Homo sapiens: one gene and its partners. The protein of the gene in region 1 interacts with the protein of each later gene in a biochemical or structural test. Each region holds a gene or a part of one and is shown in the gene's direction. Other genes may lie near its edges.

Region 1 (7,000 bases):
GCAGATGATGCCTGGTGTGTCCACTGCGCCAACATGGGGCGCTGTTGGGAACCCACTCGGCTGCTGCAGGCTTGGAAGCTGCTGCTCCACAGGCTGGGAGTTTTTGCCCCCAAGGCTGTGCAGAGCCAAAATCTGAAAGCCCTTTTAGGGGCAGGGATTAATGTGGGTTACTCTGGGGACCTTGCAACAGAGGCTGAGAGGTGACTGTGCAGGAGGTGTGGCCTGCCCCACAGTGAGTACACGCAGTGGCTGTCCCAGGTTCATCCAGGTACTGGGTGGCCCCTGGTCCTCTTCAGGTTTGGCCCAGCCCCTCCTTGAAGACTCCTTCCATCCAGTCAAGGCCAAGCAGGCGGGGCAGGGCCTTTATGAGCTAAATAAATAAATAAATAAATAAATAAATAAATAAAAAGAGAAATCAATGGCCCTTTACACACAAGGCTGATGGAATCTCCTCCAGACACCTGAGCATCTTGTTCTGGTGGCTCTTGCCAGTTTTATACGATAAAAGGCATGGGGTAGGGAGATTATAATCCCTCTGAAATGCGGGGAAATGGTTTTCCAGAGTGTCCATGGGACCCCATCGAGGGAGCATGGGGCTTGGGACACCCAATGACCCAGTAGCCCACCCTGTGTCCACAGACCTGCAGCCAGTTACCTACTGCGAGCCGGCCTTCTGGTGCTCCATCTCCTACTACGAGCTGAACCAGCGCGTCGGGGAGACATTCCACGCCTCGCAGCCATCCATGACTGTGGATGGCTTCACCGACCCCTCCAATTCGGAGCGCTTCTGCCTAGGGCTGCTCTCCAATGTCAACAGGAATGCAGCAGTGGAGCTGACACGGAGACACATCGGTATGGGGTGGCTCCATTCCCCGCCCCCCCACCCTGCCCCTGCCACTCTATCCCACCCCCAGCCCCAGGCCTGAACACACAGCCTCTGAAGGGAACCTTGCGTCCATCCTTAGCTGTGCTCTGCCTCCTGCTGGGCATGGGGGAAGACTCACTGCCCCAGCAAGTCCCCTACACTCTCTGTTGCCCTGTTTAGGGGCCAGACAGGTAGTGTTCAGGCCACTTGATCATTCCCACTCAAAGATATAATCTCAGAAAATCTGGAAGCCACAGAGGAAAATAGTTCATCTAAGGGATCAAGAAGGGAACGTCTATGAGAAAGGCAACATATGAAATCTATTTTTTTTTTTTTTTTGGAGACAGAGTCTTGCTTTATCCAGGCTGGAGTGCAATGGCACAATCTTGCCTCACTGCAACCTCTGCCTCCTGGGTTCAAGCGATTCTCCTGCCTCAGCTTCCCAAGTAGCTGGGATTACAGGCACCCAACCACCACGCCCAGCTAATTTTTGTGTTTTTAGTAGAGACGGGGTTTCTCCATGTTGGCCAGGCTGGTCTCGAACTCCTGACCTCAGGTGATCCACCTGCCTTGGCCTCCCAAAGTGCTGGGATTACAGGCGTGAGCCACCGTGCCTGGCTGAAATCCTCTAAATAAAAATACTCTGAAAGTACAGATGGATAGGTTGATAAGTAGGCAGTCATTGTTGGAAGAGTGATCTTCTCTTATTTTCATGTATCATTATTCTAAACAATTTAGAAAAGGTAGAAAAGAATTGTCCACTATCCAAACACCACTACTGTGAACCTTCTGCCTTCTAGCCCCCAGAACATAAGTAAAAGATGACTTTGTGAGTTTAAGGAAGATGAAGCTGTGTTACGCATCACTTGGTTTGCTTATGAAGTTATCAAGCTTAGAGGATTTTACGATCCAGAATCACAACTGTCAGAACTTAGAAGGGCTGTAGAGAGATGGCAGAGTGAGGTTTTCTCAGACCTTGTCCTGGAGCCCCAAGGGTTGGCAAAGGGTTCCTGCGGCAAACTCAGGAGGTGGGCAGGTTAGCAAAGGGAAGCCTGGTCCCACGTGAACCAGGGCACCTCTGCACTCGCTTGCTTTATATCTCGGGCTCTCACAGAAGACTTCATTTGAAGAGAGGATTGATTCTGTAGTGAAGAGAAGAAAAGTTTGGAGGCCATGGGCCTAGGTCTGTGCTCTCATTTTCTAGGAAAGGGACCTGATGTCTAGGGGGTTGGGGAGGGTAGGGAACGGCTCTGCAGAGACCTCATTGTCAGTGACAGACAGCCACCACTACCAGACCTGTTGTTCCCATTTCGCTTTTTGTTTTTTACTTCAAAAAAGATACTTATTCTGGGTGGCATACCACTGTTTGATTGATTGATTGATTTAGAGATAGGGTCTTGCTATGTTGCCCAGGCCCAGTCGCAAACTCTTGGGCTCAAGCTATCCTCCCATCTCAGCCTCCTGATTAGCTGGGACAATAGGCATATACCACTGCAACTGGCTTTTTTCTATATTTTATTAAAAAAAAAAAAAAATATATATATATATATATATATATATATATATTTTTTTTTTTTTTTTTTTTGGAGCGGGGAGACCAAGTCTCGCTCTTGTCTCCCAGGCTGGAGTGCGATGGCACAATCTTGGCTCACTGCAACCTCCACCTCCCAGGTTCAAGTGATTCTCCTGCTTCAGCCTCCTGAGTAGCTGGGATTACAGGCATGTGCCACCACACCTGGCTAATTTTTTGTATTTTTAGTAGATATGGGGATTCACCACGTTGGCCAGGCTAGTCTCGAACTCCTGACCTCAGGTGATCTGCCCGCCTCAGCCTCCCAAGGTACTGGGATTACAGGTGTGAGCCACCATGCCCGGCCTATTTTTTTAAGTTACTGAAACGAAACAAACATTTTTGGTCTGGGTCTTCGCATCCCCACCTCTGCCTTCTGCTCTTACTGACATGATACAGTTGTGGACAGCCAGGAAGTCATCCCTCCTGTGGACTCTGAGCCACCAGCACCCTGCAGAACTAAAGCCAGAAAAAATGGGGAGTGGTTGGAGGAAGGGGACAGTAGTGGGAATAGGAGGCAGGACAGGGGACATCCAGTGATGCATGGGTCGGTCACCTCGTGTTCATCCTACCGGATGCTGGGCCTGTAATATCTGGCTCCGTGTTCTGACCTCTGAGCTTCTTCCCCAGGAATGGAGCAGAGACTTTGCCATGCAGGAGAAGGGACCATCCCCTGGCCGAGCAAAGAGCTCATTGTCAGAGTTTACGCAACTGTTTGAGTTGCAGAGCCAATTTAAAAATAATTTCTGTCCATCTGGAGTGGATTTAAGAGATGAAAGAAAAGTAAATGATATAAACCTCTGGAATGTTTTAGAAAAATGCATTGAGGGAAGAAAAAAATAAGGGCATAGCGTTAAACCATCCCTGCAATAAAGGGCTCCTTGGGGTGTCTGCTGCATCAGAAGGAGCCCTGCAGGTTTACTGAATGAATCTCTGAATCTTGGAGTGTGAAGAGACCAAATAATAGTGGGGTAGTAGTAGCAGTAGCAGCAAGAAAAGCTGACACCAGGCACTTACTGTGTGTCTCACAGTAATCCTGCAAGGGTAGAGGTTATCATCATTCCCTTTTTTTTTTTTTTTTTGGAGTTAGGGTCTCACTCTGTCTCCCAGGCTGGAGTGCAGTGGTGTGATGGGAGCTCACGGCAGTCTTGAACCCCTGGGCTCAAGCAATCCACTCACCTCAGCCTCCCAAGCAGCTAGGACTACAAGGATATGCCACTATGCCCAGTTAATTAAAAAAAAAATGTTTTTGTAGAGATGAAGTCTCATTACATTGCCCAGGCTGGCCTTGAACTCCTGGCCTCAAGTGATCCTCCCACCTTGCCCTCCTAAAGCTCTGGGATTATTGGTGTGAGCCACCGCGCCTGGCCCCCATCCCTATCGTAGAGACAAACGAAGACTCAGAGGGTGAATAACTTGACTGAGGCCCATGCCTACTCAGTGGCAAAGGCTGTCACTGAGACCTATCCTGTGTGCCCATCTCTTGTCATCTGCCTCCCTTGGCTTTAGGAATCCGGCAGTGCCCATTTCCCCTACTTTAGGCTTGGGCTTTGGGGCCCGTTTGCCTGGGGAAGCTGGCAGTCACTGGGAGCAGCTCTGCTGTTCTGCCTCCTTTGCGAGCCTCAGGTGGCCCCAGGGCCATTGTGTGTGAGCAAAGGCACCCTGTCCAGTCTAACCTGAATCTCTGTAGGAAGAGGCGTGCGGCTCTACTACATCGGAGGGGAGGTCTTCGCAGAGTGCCTCAGTGACAGCGCTATTTTTGTCCAGTCTCCCAACTGTAACCAGCGCTATGGCTGGCACCCGGCCACCGTCTGCAAGATCCCACCAGGTAAACGAGCCGCACAGGCACCCCTGCCTTGAGGTCCCTCTCCGAGTGCATGCCTAGGATGCTGGAGAGAGTCCACCTTTCTCACCTTTTCTGCTCACTCATGATTGCGTTGTCAATCTGGAGGTGATTGGATTAGGTTTTCTCTATGCCCACAGATCTAACTGTGCTTTCCCTGAACTTCCAGGGAGCAGATGTAGCATCTGATAGGTCTGCCTTTAACCTGTGGGTACCTGCCTGTTGCCCTGTGCGTAGATGCTCAGGCAGTATGGCTTCCTTTCTTCACTCATTCATTGCACAAACAGCATGCAGGGCTCTGTGCCAGGTGCTGTAGGGGATGAAGAGGTAGATGCGGCCCTGCTCTGCCCCCGCAGACCTTACAGGCCTGCAGAGCACAGAAGACAAAGACACGGATGAGTTCAATATAAGGGACGGGTGCCAAGCACCAAGCCAGCAGCCCAGGTAGAGAGAAGGCCCATTTAGCTGTTGGGATGGATCAGGGAAGTCTTCATGGAGGAGAAACATCCGGATCCTGAAGGATAGGTAGGCACTAGGCACAGGGAGGGCATTCTAGACAGGGGGAGCAGCCCAGGCAAAGGGCCTGAGGTAATGGAGGGCAGGACATGGATGGGTAGCTCTCTGGCTGGAGGAGGGTCATGTATGAGACCGTCAGGGGAAATGTTTCAAAAGCACAACAGCATGAGGCCGTGGAAGGACACCAGAGAGTTTGACTCTAGGGAACTGCTGAGGGTTTTCTGAGTGAGCCTGAAAAATCCCACCTGTACCCCAAGAAGAGGTGTCAGGCTGCACCCCCGAGAGTGGTTTGGACAGGGCCACGCCTGGACAGCAAGATCAGGCAGGTGGCTGATCCCATCTAAGGCCTCTTTCCTCAGGAAACCAAGGCAGAAAGCCCCAGCCAAAGTCCACTTTTCACAGGACGTGCAGCCACTGTGTAGGCAGCCCACAGAACATGGCCTGTGACAGACTAGTGGAGCAGGTAACCTGGCCAGGCCATTGCCTGTGGCACGTGTGTGGCATGCCCCTTCCTGCCCACTGAGTAGCAGATGGTAGTGGAGAAGTGGTAGACCACAGGCAGGGGAAACTTTAGAATGCAGAAAGTCTGAAATGATAATAGCACACCAGGTTTCCAGAGCATTTTGTGGTTGCATTTATAGAGTACATTCCGATCGTTGACCTCATTTAGTCCTCACCAGTTATTCTCTGGCTCTATAAGTAAGGAGACGCTTTGAGAGACAAGTTCAGAGAGTTTCAGCCACCTGCCCAAGCGCACACAGCTAGTAAGTGGCCAAGCCGGGATGGGGCCTAGGGCTGATGGACTCTCAAGTTTGGTGCTCTTCTGCTTCTTGGCTCTGCTGGGGGTCAGGGCCCAGGTTCAGCCCTGTTCCACCACCCTTGTCCTTGGAGAGAATGAAGAAGAGGAAGCTCAGTGACGCTCTTGGCCTTCTGCCTCTTCCATTCCCCGGCCCCACCCCCATCTTTTGGGTGAGGGCTGAGTTGGCTGTGGTGTTGTTTGTCAGCTCATAGAATGTCAGAGCTGGAAGGACCTCTGAGGCCAGCCCTTCATTATACAGAGACACAGGGTCCCCAAGAGAAAGCGACCAGCTCAGAGTCACACAGCAAGAACAGGAGCCTGCTGTTGGCTCATTCATAAGCGTCACCCCGGCTCACCTTTTGGCTATTTCCAGCATGTGCTTTTGTCTTTATTTTTCTGGTTGACACATTCCTGGCACTCAGGCAGTAAGACTTCAAACGACATTTATTTTAAACTTTATTTGTGACTGTCTTTAGTTTTACTGTCTGGAGAATCAGATGCACACCTTCACTTAGCTGTGAATGTCACCTCCACCCAGCCCAGTGCCCAGAGGCCAAAATTTGGCCCAGATCTCTCCTTACCTCCTAGCCCCAGCACCAGGTGTATTCATCAGAGGAGCCCAGGTGGAGGGTGCACTGGGCCCTCTGCCAAGCTTCCTGTGGGGACGGCAGGCCCAGTAGCCTTTCGGCCAGCCCGTCTCTGGGGGCACTGCCTGCTGTGGAACGGCCAGAGCTCCTGTTCCTAGGTGGGTGACCAGACCCCACACAGCATGGGCAACCTGGCCCAGGTCCCTTATCTCTCTGTCCCCTGGTCCCTTTGCCCAAGGAAAGGCCCCCCTCTCCACACCATCTCCCTATTTTTGGAAGCCCTCTTTGCAGACTTCTCCCTGCTCTGGGAGTCGGAGCTTGTGGGCCAGCCTTCCATCTCCCCTTGCAGGTATGTCAGTGGCACCTCCCAGTGAGGAGATGGGTTCAAGGGGAGGGACTGGGTTGGCCTTCCCTTTGCATGGTACTGAGTGTGGAGTGTGTGGCAAATGCATCACACACCATGTGTCCCTGGAGCTGTATAAATGAGGCTGGTCTAGGGGGTCCAGGACTTGCTTTATCCAGGAGGGGAGCAACGGACCTGGCCACTTCCATCCCCACAGCCCTGTTTCTGTGTTTTTGGCAGGATGCAACCTGAAGATCTTCAACAACCAGGAGTTCGCTGCCCTCCTGGCCCAGTCGGTCAACCAGGGCTTTGAGGCTGTCTACCAGTTGACCCGAATGTGCACCATCCGCATGAGCTTCGTCAAAGGCTGGGGAGCGGAGTACAGGTCAGTTATGGGTGCTGCCTACATCAGGGGACCCAACTCCAGGTGACTCTGGACAGCAGAGCAGGCAGGGCTCCTCAGAGATGAGCTAGGCC
Region 2 (6,925 bases), on another chromosome or scaffold:
ACAGACAGCTCTGCCCTCTCTATGAGTGGCTGGATTAGGTGATTTCCAAAGTCATTTCCTGCCCTCACATGCTCTTCACTCTTTGCCCTTCACTCTTAGAGAGCAGTCACGTGGGTTCATTCCAAGTTGTCAACAGAAGTATTTCTTCTTTCTAGCCTCCTCTTGATTTTTTGCTGTATTTATGCCAGTGCCCAGTTGCAGCTGGAAAATCATTAGAATGGCATCCGGTGCCATTTCCCTCACTCCTGCCTGCACAAGCATCTGGAAGGAAGAGTGCTTGGTTGAAGAGCAGGCAGGCGGCAAGGATGACAGGAGGGGATGCCCACCGGAGTGCTGGCAAGTGCAGGAAGTGGAACCGGAGGCCCAGAGTTCTAGCCAATTTCAGGAGGGTCTCTATGGGAATCCTAGGGCTGCTGCATAAATCAATTACATAGCCCAGTTTAAACATCATTTTTGCATCTGATAGTAATAAATGAGGAAGGGAATTGTTTCTGTATTCACTGAGACAATTTGTGTTTCCCTGAAGAGTTTTAAGGGCAACATACTAAATGACACTAATAAAGTAACAACTATCTGCATTATTTAAGCTGCATTAAGACCAGAGCTCAATATTTTAACTAGTAGCCTGCTGTCCTTGAGTGTTTAACAAACCGGAGAGAAACAGATTACTCCCTGGTCAAAACACTGCAGAGGCTTCATGTCACACTCAGGAAAAAAATCCAAGCTCCCTACCACCTACCTCTCTGAGCTCATCCTCTCCATCCAGCCCTGTGTACCCCACGCTAAGCACACTAGACAGCTTGCTGCGCTTAGACACACTAAGCTCGTGCCTACTGCGGGCCCTTCCCCTGGGTCACTTCTGTCCGGAATGCTCATCCCCTAGATCTCTGAGTGGCTGGATCCCTGAAACTATTCAGATTTCTGCTTAAATATCATCTCCTCAGAGGAGCTTCCCTGACCACTTTATCTAAAATAATACACCTCCTGTCCCACCCTGGTCTGTTTTCCTCCAGCAATTTTCCCTGCTTAATTTTTCTTCATAGCATTTATCACTGCAAATCATATTATACATTCATTTAATTATTTTCCTCAACTCTCACTAGACTGTAAGCTCCATGAAGATGGGAACTTTGTCTGGGCTACTGCTGTATCCTCCCCTCCTAGAAAGGTACCTGGCACATGCTAGGTGCTCTAGTGATAACAGTTCAGTGAGAAAGCTGCCTTATGAAAGAATGGCACACAGAGAAGGGGTTCCTCCAACTTCTTCTGAATGCCTACCACACTTATCAACAGTAGTCTAATATTAATACTAGTTATAATTAATACAATAATTAAATAATAATCTATAGAATATAGCAATAATGTCATAAAATATTAACAAAATATCATAAATCTGATATTAATTAAAATAATAACTAATAACAACAGTAATAAGAACAAGCAACCATTTAAGGTCTTACAATGTAACAAGTACTATTAAATTCTATCCACATTATCTTATTTAATCCTCATTATGAGGCTAGCAGGTATTATTATTTTCTCTATTTCATACTGAAGGACATCAAAATTAAGAAGTTCAACTGGCCAGGCACAGTGGCCCACGCCTGTAATCCCAGCACTTTGGGAGACTGAAGCAGGTAGATCACCTGAGGTCAGGAGTTCGAGACCAGCCTGGCCAATCTGGTGAAACCCCGTCTCTACTAAAAATACAAAAAATTAGCCAGGTATGGTGGCAGACACATGTAATCCCAGCTACTCGGGAGGCTGAGGGAATTGCTTGAACCAGAGATGCGGGGATTGCAGTGAGCCGATATTGCACCACTGCACTCCAGCCTGGGCAACAAGAATGAAACTTTGTCTCAAAAAAAAAAAAAAAAAAAATTAAAAATGTTTTGAGGTTCCAGCACAGGTTTACCTGATTCCAACACCCTTGTGCTTTCCTTTAGGCAGCTAACTATATACTGACCCAAGCCTTCTTGAAATGAACTTCGGGTAGATTACATGTGTCTTACTTACCTTACAGGACAGAAACAGGAAAGCAGGAGGGCCACTAGCTAGAGAATGAAATTACAAAAAAACCCCAGCACAAACTTTAGGAAACTGTTTGAAAACATTAAAATAGGATGGGACAGCACTCACTTACTCAATGATATTCATCAAACAAAACAGAAAAAGGATTCAGCTTGACCACTTAGGAAGCCAAAGGAATGTTATCTAGATCTCTTGGAGGCCGCAAGACTCATCTTACAGATGGGAAGGGCTTTGAATCATTGTCCTCCTTTATCCAGGTAGACACCAAAAACAATTTCCTGCAAACTAACGACTCTCCGGTCAGTCTGCAGGATTCTTAAGGAGATCGTTACAATGCAATATGCTGCGTGCTTAATTTGTGTTCAGAAAGGCCTTGCACAATCACTCAGGCTTATTTTTGCTCTAAGGACAAATGAGGAGAAGCAAGGCCTAATACAGGCTGGAACAGGTATGTCAACCTCATTAGGATGGCCTGGGGGGTCATGTCCCTGGAATCAGTGCCACACTGAACTGCAAACTAACCTGCCAACCCTGTATCTGGAAACCACTTTTGTAGGACAGCTGTTCTCTCATTCCTTTTGCTTAGATCATAAAAGTAGAGTTTTCATCCATTGGGAATTTGTGTGTTAGACGCGAAGGGAATCAGATTCTGATCCAACTTGGTCAGGAAAAAAAAAAATAAGGGCTGATTTTTCCATCCAAGTCATGTAGTCTGGTTGGAGTGCATCCCACTCAGGGACAGCTATTGTCTGGATTCACCGAGTCTCAGTCTTGCCCGGGAAAAAGGAATTTTTCGCCTCACTGCTCTGTCCGTGAGAAGAGTTGCAGAAGGTGACCATTTCTGTTTTCTGGGTGATTCTCTTTCTCTATAGAAATCCTAAAATGGAACCTTTATAGAAATTATGTTCTGTGCTTCGCTGGAGAGAGACTGGTCTTTTTAACCAGGCTCATCAAACAGTGGGCATTTTCGTTCTCCTGGATAATAAGTGTTGGTGGGTTAATGGGTCATCCTCAGGACAGAGGTCAGAAGGAAAAACACTGCAGTGTTCAAAGCTGGAGCTAGAAATGCCAGCCGTCAAAGAACACAGAACTCAGTGGACGGTGATGATGTATAGGGCGTGCACTGGCCAACCCCATCCGAGAGGTCACATCTAACCTTTATCCTCAGCAAAGCCACTGAAGGTCGCTCAATATGTGTGACCCGCAACTCTGAGGCCCTGGTGAGAAGCTGTCCAGGAAAACGCTGGTGCGTGTGCTAGAGGGTTCCTTTTCACTAAGGGAGAATTGTCTTCCAGCTCCTTGCAGACTGACATCGCAAAGTACTTTGAACGTTGAAAAGAACAAAAAAAGCAAACAGTCACACACACACAAAAAGTAGGCGGGAGGAGGGGGAAAGAAAAAGGGACAGAGAGAGAGAGAGGTATCAGCAGGGGTGGTTAGTAAAAAGGGGCCCGGAGACAGAAAACCTTTTGTTCCCGGAGTTCGTTTCATGTAGAGATTGTGAGGTGAATGGCTTTGAAACGAAATGGGTTTATGAAGGAGTTGCTAGGTCACAGGAAGCGCGACTGTCAGACTGCTTTTGTGAATTCAGTTTCTTTAAAATTTGGGTTAATCTTAAAAAGAATGTATCTCCTTTTCCTGTTCTTTCTCTTTCTGTCTTCTTTTTTGGCGGGGGCGGGAGGACAGAGTAAGGTTCAGGACGGTTCCCCACTTTCTGTTTTATTTTCCACCGTCTGATAAAGCAAAAAGAAGCGATCACATTACAAGTTCTTTGTCAGTTTTTCAGAATTAGGGGTGGGCAGGGCCTGAGCATTACCTTGTCCCACTAGCCAATGGCGGGGCGGCATGCAAATGAGGTCCGCGATCAGCCTGCCTCAGTCACAACAGTGAGCTCAGAGACTTGAGGGAGGCGCTGCGACTGACAAGCGGCTCTGCCCGGGACCTTCTCGCTTTCATCTAGCGCTGCACTCAATGGAGGGGCGGGCACCGCAGTGCTTAATGCTGTCTTAACTAGTGTAGGAAAACGGCTCAACCCACCGCTGCCGAAATGAAGTATAAGGTAAGAGAGTGCCTTTTACAGGTTACCTTGCAAGCTGAAAGCTGTGCCTGCGGGTGTGTGCTTGTGTATGCGTGTTCCTTACTGTCAGTCCCTTGTGTGTCCCGGAGAGTTCTAAGATGAGTCTCGGTCACTGAGGTTGACATGCAAGCAGACAAGCAAGCAGAGACCCGGTCTTTGAGACCCACTCCAGGGGTTCACAGTACACCCGAGTCCATCTGCTCTGAAAGTTGCCGGGGAAATACCTCGGTGAGAAGTTAAGACTTGGAGCCGCTTCACAGCAGCCACTGGAGATCAGAGGGTGTCTGACTTGAATCGCGGCAGGCATTGGCTCAAGTCTCCTTGGCTTCCCCAGGCCTGGCTTCCACTGCCCTGGGGAACTGTAATGAGAGGAATGAGGACTGCATAGTCTGTCTCAGACTGGCTCTTAGTGCAAAGTTTTCCAGACTTTGCTTTAATCGTTTGGTCTCGGAAGGAGTATGCCATATGCACTTTTGGTGGGAGAAATTAAAAGCCCAGATTACACAGCTGAGGATGGAAAATTTTGACATCCTTATGTTATATTGGATGTAGGAATAAATAAGTATGAGCCATTTCTTGAAAACATTTTTATTGGAGTTTGAATGGGGTGAGAGTGCGAAGGCTCAGGCTGGCTCATTGTGCCTGAAAGCTTACAGAGTGTCATAGTCATAGTACTTCAGCAGCATTATTTTCCAATGCATTTTACACCATTGTTTGTGGATTTTTCTTGCCAAAAGGATTTTTGACTTGCTCCGTATATTCCCCCCTCCCCTTTTTCTTTTAAGTCACTCCCATCTAAGGAGGCAAGCAGCTTCCAGGGGACACAAAGAAAGCAGACTGCAATGAATTGGACATGAATTTTTCTTGAATGATGAATAGACATGAGTGCTAGTGCTACTATTTTATTTTATGCTATTTTAAACAAAAGTGTTATTATTAAGATGGATTTGGGCAAGGGTGCTAGGCTTGTGGATTGACAATTTATATTAACTGTACACTAGCTGGAAGCTACTTCGCTTTTTTTCTAAATTTTTCTGGTCCATCCTTTTTTGATGTAAGGTTGTAAATACTTGGTCTAACTGATAGCCACTGACTAGCCTCAGTAATAAAGCTTTTGTTCAAAAACTATGAATCTTATTCAAAAGCTTTAAGTCTAAATGTCAAAAGTCTTTATAGTAATGCCTACGTTACCACTGTCTGAAGACACAGGTATCAGCTATTTCTGTTTCATCAGCTTTCTATTATCTTCATCAGTAGGGAAGATCAGAGGAAAGGGTCATCCTGAAGACTATTAATATTTGACTTTAGGATGCAACCAGAAACAAATCCCTCTACTTGGCAGGAAAGTTATCTTCCTTAAAGTGGCTCACCCCATATTTCCTTATTTAGAACAATGATAGGACCAGATATTACTCAGCCTGGAGTGACTTTTTTGCTCCTCCTTTCCCTGTTGTTGAATAAGAACTGGCTTGCAGAAAAAAGAGAAAGTATGTTCATATGTCTATTATTGGAAAGTATAAATGGCTGAAATTAACATTGAGTGCTATAATCTAGAAAGTGACGAAAGCGACAAAGTCTCAAGTCACTTTTATTCAATGATCTCATCGTGGTTAGCTTTACTCTTTATGGAAAGAAAATCTAAAGGCAACTGATAAAGTGACTGACAGCGTAAACTGCGATTGGCATTCATGGAGAAACCTGCTTCTCCACTGGGCCTTACTGGTGTTGAACACCTTGCCAAATGATGTAAATACATGATTTTTATTACCTTGTAGGCACCTTCACCAGCAAAAAAGCTAACTTCTCCGACCGAACACATGACTTATGCCCTATGATGACTATTAAATCAACCAATAGCTGAAGAAATCCACTTTCCTTTTTTATAAAGTTTTCTTTCTCTCTAGTTAATAATGAACAACTTTACTTCAGGAAAGGATTTTGTTATTGTAAGTAGAGGAGAGACACAAAAGTAATGAAGTAACATTAATTGAGACTTACTGTGACAACACAAGATTGTCATATTCAACTCTCCCAATAGCTCTACAAGGTGGGTATTATTTTTATACTCAATTTCAAATGACACAGAGAGGCTAAGTAATTTATCTAATGCCACACAGCTAGAAAGTGGTGAGCTGGGATTAGAACTAAGGCGATCTGGCTCCAGAACTCATGACTTTAACCACTATTAAGAGAAAGAGAAAGAGCTATCGTTGACCTCTCTAAAATATGGCCAGTGTTTTCTTCTCCCAGAAAGTTTAAGACTATTTCATCCCAAGTATTCCTGCAGGATAATTTCTTTTTAAGATAGTAACTCTACAAAGCAAAATGAAGTGCATGTTTGGCAGTTATTTGTTTAATTCGAGCCACTTAGGTAGTAAAACCAGATAATTATTAGATGGTAAAATCCCAGAGACAGGAATTATCTCTAAAATACTACGTTGCTCTATGCACTGTAAATTTAGCACAAACCTTAAAATGTTTACTGAAAGACTTATGAATCAGGCCCTATAAGATTGTCGTTGTTAACCTGATTATCTGGTTTGGCTGCCCCAGGGATCACAACTACGGAACAACAAACCTTCACTTATTTTGCACTTAATATACATAGCTTCAGGCCAGGCAGCAAGGTACTTGCAGTAATCCTGAGAACTGTGGAATGTAAGCTATTACTCCGGACAGACATTTCTGGTTAGCACTTATCTAATCTGTCTTTATTTCCCTGTATGTTTTTATTTGTCCACAGGAAGGTTGCAGTCACTGTCATACGTACTTAATTTTCCATTTCTCTTAGAAGGGATTCAGTCTGTGGTTATGTGA
Region 3 (7,000 bases), on another chromosome or scaffold:
TAGTATTTTAAATTTATAGAGTACCTTTGATTTCAAGATGCTGTATAAACTTTAGTTACTTGATAATAACTTTATTGTGGAATTGCCCCTTTGCTGAAAGGTATAAACATTTCTTACATGGTGATGCACACACTCACACACACACACTCACACACTCATACACACTCTCTCTGAAGAAGAGGAAATATTTAAGCCATGAGATCTCTGCCCACAATTGATATTAAACCTTTCCACATATTATTCTTAAAACCACAATCAGTGAACTGTTTGGTATTTGTCAATGCTAAGAAGGTGGGGCTAATTTAATAATTTGATCCCAAATTTTAGATTCCTCAGGCAGTTGGGGGTTAGAATCTGATTTCATCCATCAAGCTACTTCTGTTCTTTATGACACATTAACATATGATCATTGAAATGGGCTGTATGGTAACACTATCAACTTCAACTACTGTTTCTATAACATTGATTACAAAATGTATAATGTCTATATCATTATACTTATATCTGATACAGGCTTTTCTTTCAATGGTTTGGATAGAAAAATATTCTTTACAGTAAAAACTTTGGGATAATTTTTTATACCATTATTGTTTCTGAAAACCAAAGGCTGGAAAAAGCAGTTTAGTGTAATTTCTAATATTTTAAATTCTTAGGTATGGAGAAGCAGAATAAGATTACTCCTCCAGAACATTTGTTTCAGACCTTTTTATACATTTAATGTTTTTGTATGCTGCTTCTCATGTTATTAATTTCAAAGCCCTTGGCAATAAGGAGGTTAACCTTGTCTATAATGTAAGGAAGTTTAACTTTAAAAATTTCCCTTTAGATATGCTAGCGTCTTAATCTTGTTTCACTACATATTTTATCGATTCAAGGCTTTAAAAATTGTAGCTTAATTCTATTTCACAGGTTTTTAAGTATGCCTATACATCATAATGACTTTATTTATTTATTTTTTGAGTTGGAGTTTCACTCTTGACTGGAGTTGAAGGGCTTGATCTCGGCCCACTGCAACCTCCACCTCCCGGGTTCAAGTGATTCTCCTGCCTCAGCCTCCCGAGTAGGTGGGATTACAGGCGCCCACCACCACGCCTGGCTGGTTTTTTTTGTATTTTTAGTAGAGACGGGTTTTGCCACGTTGGCCAGGCTGGTCTCAAACTCTGGACCTCAGGTGATCCGCCCGCCTTAGCCTTCCAGTGTGCTGGGATTACAGGCATGAGCCACGGCACCCGGCCCATAATGACTTTATATACTAGAGGTGTTAGTGATTTGAATGTCCCCAATTTGTTTTATTTTCTTGGTTTCTGAGGAGGAAGCCAGTGTAGTTGAGCTCCTTCCTTTTCTTTTAAATTCTGTCTTCTAGTCTGACCCTCTTCAGGCAGGCAGTAGAACATGCCAAGGTCCTTTTTGTAGTTTGGTATTCGTAATAAAGTCTGTGTATTTTAGTCATCACTTTTACTTTTTTCTTGTTGGTTGAGCTATTACTATCACAACATACTAACATCTCATTTAACATAACTCAGTTTTAAAGATAAATGAAGGGTCATGCTTAGGCATACAAGATTTTTATTTTAGCCTTTTTTTTTTTTGAGGCAGAATCTCATTCTGTTGCCCACACTGGAGTGCAGTGGCAACAGCGTGCAGTGAGCAATCCCGGCTTACTGCAGCCTTGACCTCCCGGCTCAGGTGATTTTCCCACCTTGGCTTCCCAACTGGCTGGGACTACAGGTCCATGCCACTGTGACTGGCTGATTTTTTTACCTTTTTTTTTTTTTTCCAGTACAGATGGGGTTTCTCCAGGTTGCCCAGGCTGGTCTTGAACTTCTGTGCTCAGGAGATCCTCCTGCCTCAGCCTTCCAAAGTGCTGGGATTACAGGTGTGAGCCACCATGCCTGGCCTATTTGAGCCTTTTTTGGTGAGAGTCTTAAAGACGTAATATGTCCTCCTCTTTTCAAATAGACCATACTTAGTAGAACTTAATGTTTTATTCATGACTCAGTATAATTATGAATGCCCTCGCCCCTAGCAATACTTGCCCATCTTTTAAGGCTCAACTCAAAGATTACTGTTATCCCTAGAACTTTCCCTGACCTGAGTTGAACTGTCCTCTATGACTCTAAGAAGCTCTTCTAGTACCAGACCTAACCCACTGGTAGGCGTTTATTGTTCCTATGCTTTAAGTGCCATGAAGCCAGCATCCTTGTGTGAGTATGGATTAAGACCTTTTTGGCATTTTATTTAATGAATGCTGGAGAGCTATAAATACTTCCGAATAGTTCTGCATGTGTTCTTTATGGCTAATGCATTGGGTATGAGTGGCAAGAGGTGAGGCTCTAGACAGGGACCAACCTAGTTTGGACCTTACTGTAGTTTGCCAAGATGTTCATTTTTTTTAAGGTGGGGGGAACCATTGCAGGATTTTAAGCTTTAATATATTTGCTGTTTAGACACAATCTGGGAGCAGTATGGAGGATGGACTGGAATGGGAACCATGAAGACTGGTTTTAGGATAACTGGTTAAGCAGATTCAACAGCAACCATCGTTCAGATTTTTTTGTTTGAATGTTTATTTCCAAATTTTTTATTACAAATAATTGCTGTAAACATCTTGGTGTAGGTAACTTTGATTTTTTTTTTAAGGATTCTTTTTTTTTAGGATGCTTCCATAAAAATAGTGTTACTGAGTTCAAGTGTGTGGATATTTTTAAGGTTTCATGAGTAATTTTTCCTTTAGGCTGCTTCTTACAAGAGTTGGACCTATTTAGAGCAGCAGTAAATAAAGATGTCCCTTTTTACTATTCTGTTATAAGTATAAGCTAATTGCATTTTACATTTTTTGCTAATTTCATGGCATGTGCCATTTAAACATTCGTGAAGCAGAATATTTTCCTGTCTGTTTACTAATGATATTTATTTTCATTGACTTGTTTGGCCTTGTCCTAGTTATGTTAGAGCCTTAGTGTTTTTCTTATTGATCTACCTGAGACTTACAAATATATTAACCTGTTGTCATATTTGCTACAAACATTTCCATGATGAATTATTTGTCTTTTAATATTGTTCATTGTTTGGACATGTAGAAATGTGTTATCTTAGGAGTCAAAATCTGTCCAACTTTTGTTTTGTTTTTCCTATTCTATACTTGGAAGAACTTATTCTCCAAGAAGTTTGATAAATAAGTACATTATATTTAATGTTTTTAAAAAATGGTTTAATAAACTATTTCCCCTGCAATTGCTATTTAGCCATCTTGTCATTATTTATTAACCAATTCTTCCTTTCCACAGTGATGTAGTATCTTTTCAGTTATATTAGTTATAGAGTCAGATATAGCTCTTGTTCAGTGCCATACTGTTTTTTTTATTGTAGCTTTATAATTTAGTTTAGTATTCTCACTAGGCCAGTTTTTTAAAGAGACGGAGTCTCACTCTGTCACTCAGGCTAGAGTACAGTGGCGTGATCTTGGCTCACTGGAGCCTCTGACCCCTGGGTTCAAGTGATTCTCCTGCCTCAACCTCCCTAGTAGCTGGGATTACAGGTGCATGCCACCACTCCCAGCTAATTTTTTTTTGTATTTTTTTTGGGTGGAGATGGGTTTACACCATGTTGGTCAGATTGGTCTCGAACTCCTGACCTCAAGTGATCTGCCCACCTTGGCCTCCCAATTTCTTTTCATTTGTTTTGGTAGTCTTATTTTTTTCTTCCACATAAATATTAAACTTGTTAAGTTTAATAAGAAGTTTCATTGGGGCCGGGCATGGTGGCTCACGGTTGTAATCCTTGGACTTTGGGGAGGCTGAGGATGGTGGATCATCTAAGGTCAGGAGTTTGAGACCAGCCTGGCCAACATGGTGAAACCCTGTCTCTACTAATAATACAAAAATTAGTTGAGTGTGGTGGCACATACTTGTAATCCTAGCTACTGGGGAGGCTGAGTCACAAGAATCGCTTGAACCTGGGAGGTGGAGGTTGCAGGCGAGATCATGCCACTGCACTCCAGCCTGGGCGACAGAGTGAAACTGTGTCTCCAAAAAAAAAAAAAAAAAAAAAAAAAAGACATTTCATTGGGATTGTCATTAGAATTGCTTTACTTTGGGAAAAAGAAGTATCTAAGTTTATTTAGTTTTCTCACCCAGGAACATGATATGTTTTTTACATTTATTTAAGCTTTGGCCCATATTGTTCAGGATAGCTTTATAATTTTCTTCCTGTGTTTGAATTTAATTTCAGATAATTTATATTTGTGTGATTTACGTTGTGTTTTCTAATCCTAGTTATTGCTTGTATTTAGGAATGCAGTTATATGTATTTTGCTTGATTAGAAGAATTTTGGCTGGGTGTGGTGACTCACGCCTGTTATCCCAGCACTTTGGGAGGCCAAGATGGGAGGATCACTTGAGCCCAGGAGTTCGAGACCAGCCTGGGCAACATAGTGAGACCTCATCTCTATATTTATTTATTTATTATTATTATTTTTTGATACTGAGTTTTGCTCTTGTTGCCCAGGCTGGAGTGCGATGGCGCCATCTCGGCTCACTGCAACCTCTGCCTCCTGGGTTCAAGCGATTCTCCTGCCTCAGCCTCCTGAATAGCTGGGATTATAGGCATGTGCCACCGCGCCCGGCTAATTCTGTATTTTTAGTAGAGATGGGGTTTCTCCATGTTGGTCAGGCTGGTCTCAAACTCCTGACCTCAGGTGATCCGCTTGCCTCGGCCTCCCAAAGTGCTGGGATTACAGGCATGAGCCACCGCACCCAGCTGATGGCTGGTTTTCTAGGTGTCAGTGTTTGGTACTTGTTACAGTTGAATGTTAACACTTAAAATTTTTCTTTTCTCTCGGATTTCTCTCCAACATATAAGTAGTTGAACAAAGTGAGAAATTTTATTTCATTAAAAATTTTTTAAATACGAGCAGTCTTCTGAACAAGAATAGTTTCAGACCAACTCTGTTTTAGAATAGCTTCTGATGGCATTGGCTACCTTTTTTAAAACCACATTTGATATTATATTAAAAAGTGTCAACAGATAATCTGAAGTTTGGCAGTTTGGTTTGGTTTTGTACAAAAATTGGTAGCAGACATAAAGTTTAAATTTTTAAATAAACCTCGATGATTCATTTTTAGGGAGGAATTACCACGTGGATGATTGCAATCATGCAATGTTCTTCCCATTTCTTCCCAAAAAGTTTCTTCCCAAAACATTTTCTCTTACCTCTTTGTAGCCAGTTGTCTTCTTCAATACCGAGAACTTGTCAACCACTGATCTGTTTTCGGTCACTATAATTTTGCCTTTTCTAGGATTTTGAGTAAATGGAATCATACTGTCTGCAGTCTTTTGGGTGAGGCTTCTTTTAGCGTAATGCTTTTGAGATCCATTCATGCTGGGTATCAGTACTTTGTTCCTTTTCATTCCTGAGGAATACTGCATTGTACACCAATTTGTTTATCCATTTATAAATATCTGCAGACATTTGTTGTTTCCAGTTTTTGGCCATTACGAATAAACATTTGAGTACATGGCTCTTTGTGAACATGTTTTTCTTGCCCTTGGGTAAATGAGTGGGATTGTTGCATCATACAGAAAGTATGCATTTTAACTTTTTAAAAATCTGCTGGGCGGATTGCTTGAGCCCAGGAGTTTGAGACCAGCCTGGGCAACATGGCAAAACTCCGTCTCTACAAAAAATACAGAAATTGGTCGGGTGTGGCCTGTGCCTGTAGTATCAGCTACCTGAGAAGCTGATGGAGGATTGATTGGGCCTGGGAAGTTAAGGCTGCGGTGCTGTGCTCACACCACTGCATTCTAGTGTGGGTGACTCTGTCTCAAAAAAAAAAATTTTTTTTTTTTCAAAGTTGTACCATTTTGCATTTCTACCAGCATTGTATGAGTTTCAGTAGTTCCTCATCCTAGTCAGCACTTGATACTGTCTTTGATTTTAGCCATTCTAATTGGTAGGTACAGATATTTCATGGTACTTTAATTTTTACTTCCTTAATAACCTACAGTTTTAAGCACATTTTAATGGACTTATTTATTGTCCATATAATCTTTGGTGAATATCCAAATCTTTTGTTCATGTTTTAAAATTGGATTGTTTTCTTATTGAGTTTTGAGAATTCTTTATGTATTCTGGATATAAGCCTTTTATGAGATATATACTTTGCAAATATTTTCTCCCGGACTGTAGCTCCCCCACCGCCCCCCAAAAGATGTCCCAAAGAGAAGAAGTTTTGAATGCTGATGAAACCTGTTTATCAGTGTTTTTCTTTTGTGGTTCATGTTTTTTGAGTCCTAAGTCTTTTTCTAACCCAGAGTTCTAAAGATTTTCTCTGTGTTTTCTTCTGCATTATTTATAATTTTAACTCATACATTTAAACTTATTTTCAAGTTAATTTTTTAATATGCTGTGAGAAGTAAGTGTCATGATTTTTTTTTCATATGGATATTCTATTTTTGTAGCCCTATTTGTTGAAAATACTTTTGTTTCCTCCATTGAATTGTCTTGGCACCTTGGTAGAAAATCAGTTGACAGGCCAGGTGCGGTTGCTCATGCCTATTCTTTGGGAGGCCGAGGCAGGAGGCTCACATGAGGTCAGGAGTTCTAGACCAGCCTGGCCAACATGGCAAAACCCCGTCTCTACTAAAAATAAAAAATTAGCCAGGTGTGTGGCAGGTGCCTGTCATCCCAGCTACTCGGGAGGCTGAGGCAAGAGAATCACTTGAACCCAGGAGGTGGAGGTTGCAGTGAGCTGAGATTGTGCCACTGCACTCCAGCCTGGGCGACAGAGCGAGATTCTGTCTCAAAACAAACAAACAAACAAATCAGTTGACAGTATACATAGAATTCTATTTCTGGACTCTCCTGTGTTTTCTTTATGATTCTACCCTTTAAGTTTATTTGTTTTAACACTATGCTGTCTTGATTACTATAGCTTTAAAATAAAGCAGCTTTCAAACAAATTGAGTCTTTGATTTAGGATCTTGTAGTGCTTTGGAGCGG

Evidence for each region. The genes of interacting proteins can lie anywhere in the genome.
Region 2: the proteins of SMAD3 (region 1) and NEDD9 form a complex in vitro, tested with the Homo sapiens proteins (2 studies listed by BioGRID).
Region 3: the proteins of SMAD3 (region 1) and SMURF2 form a complex in vitro, tested with the Homo sapiens proteins (2 studies listed by BioGRID and IntAct, with this or other methods).

What each region holds. Positions count from the first base shown.
Region 1 is NC_000015.10:67,180,602-67,187,601, forward strand, and holds part of SMAD3 (mothers against decapentaplegic homolog 3), read left to right. Parts: intron 1-639; coding exon 640-852; intron 853-4,125; coding exon 4,126-4,263; intron 4,264-6,418; coding exon of another isoform or gene 6,419-6,529; intron 6,530-6,763; coding exon 6,764-6,908; intron 6,909-7,000. UniProt on the Homo sapiens protein: Receptor-regulated SMAD (R-SMAD) that is an intracellular signal transducer and transcriptional modulator activated by TGF-beta (transforming growth factor) and activin type 1 receptor kinases.
Region 2 is NC_000006.12:11,229,669-11,236,593, reverse strand, and holds the start of NEDD9 (enhancer of filamentation 1), read left to right. Parts: upstream 1-3,925; 5' UTR 3,926-4,078; coding exon 4,079-4,090; intron 4,091-5,883; exon of another isoform or gene 5,884-6,155; intron 6,156-6,925. UniProt on the Homo sapiens protein: Scaffolding protein which plays a central coordinating role for tyrosine-kinase-based signaling related to cell adhesion. As a focal adhesion protein, plays a role in embryonic fibroblast migration.
Region 3 is NC_000017.11:64,652,308-64,659,307, reverse strand, and holds part of SMURF2 (E3 ubiquitin-protein ligase SMURF2), read left to right. Parts: intron 1-7,000. UniProt on the Homo sapiens protein: E3 ubiquitin-protein ligase which accepts ubiquitin from an E2 ubiquitin-conjugating enzyme in the form of a thioester and then directly transfers the ubiquitin to targeted substrates.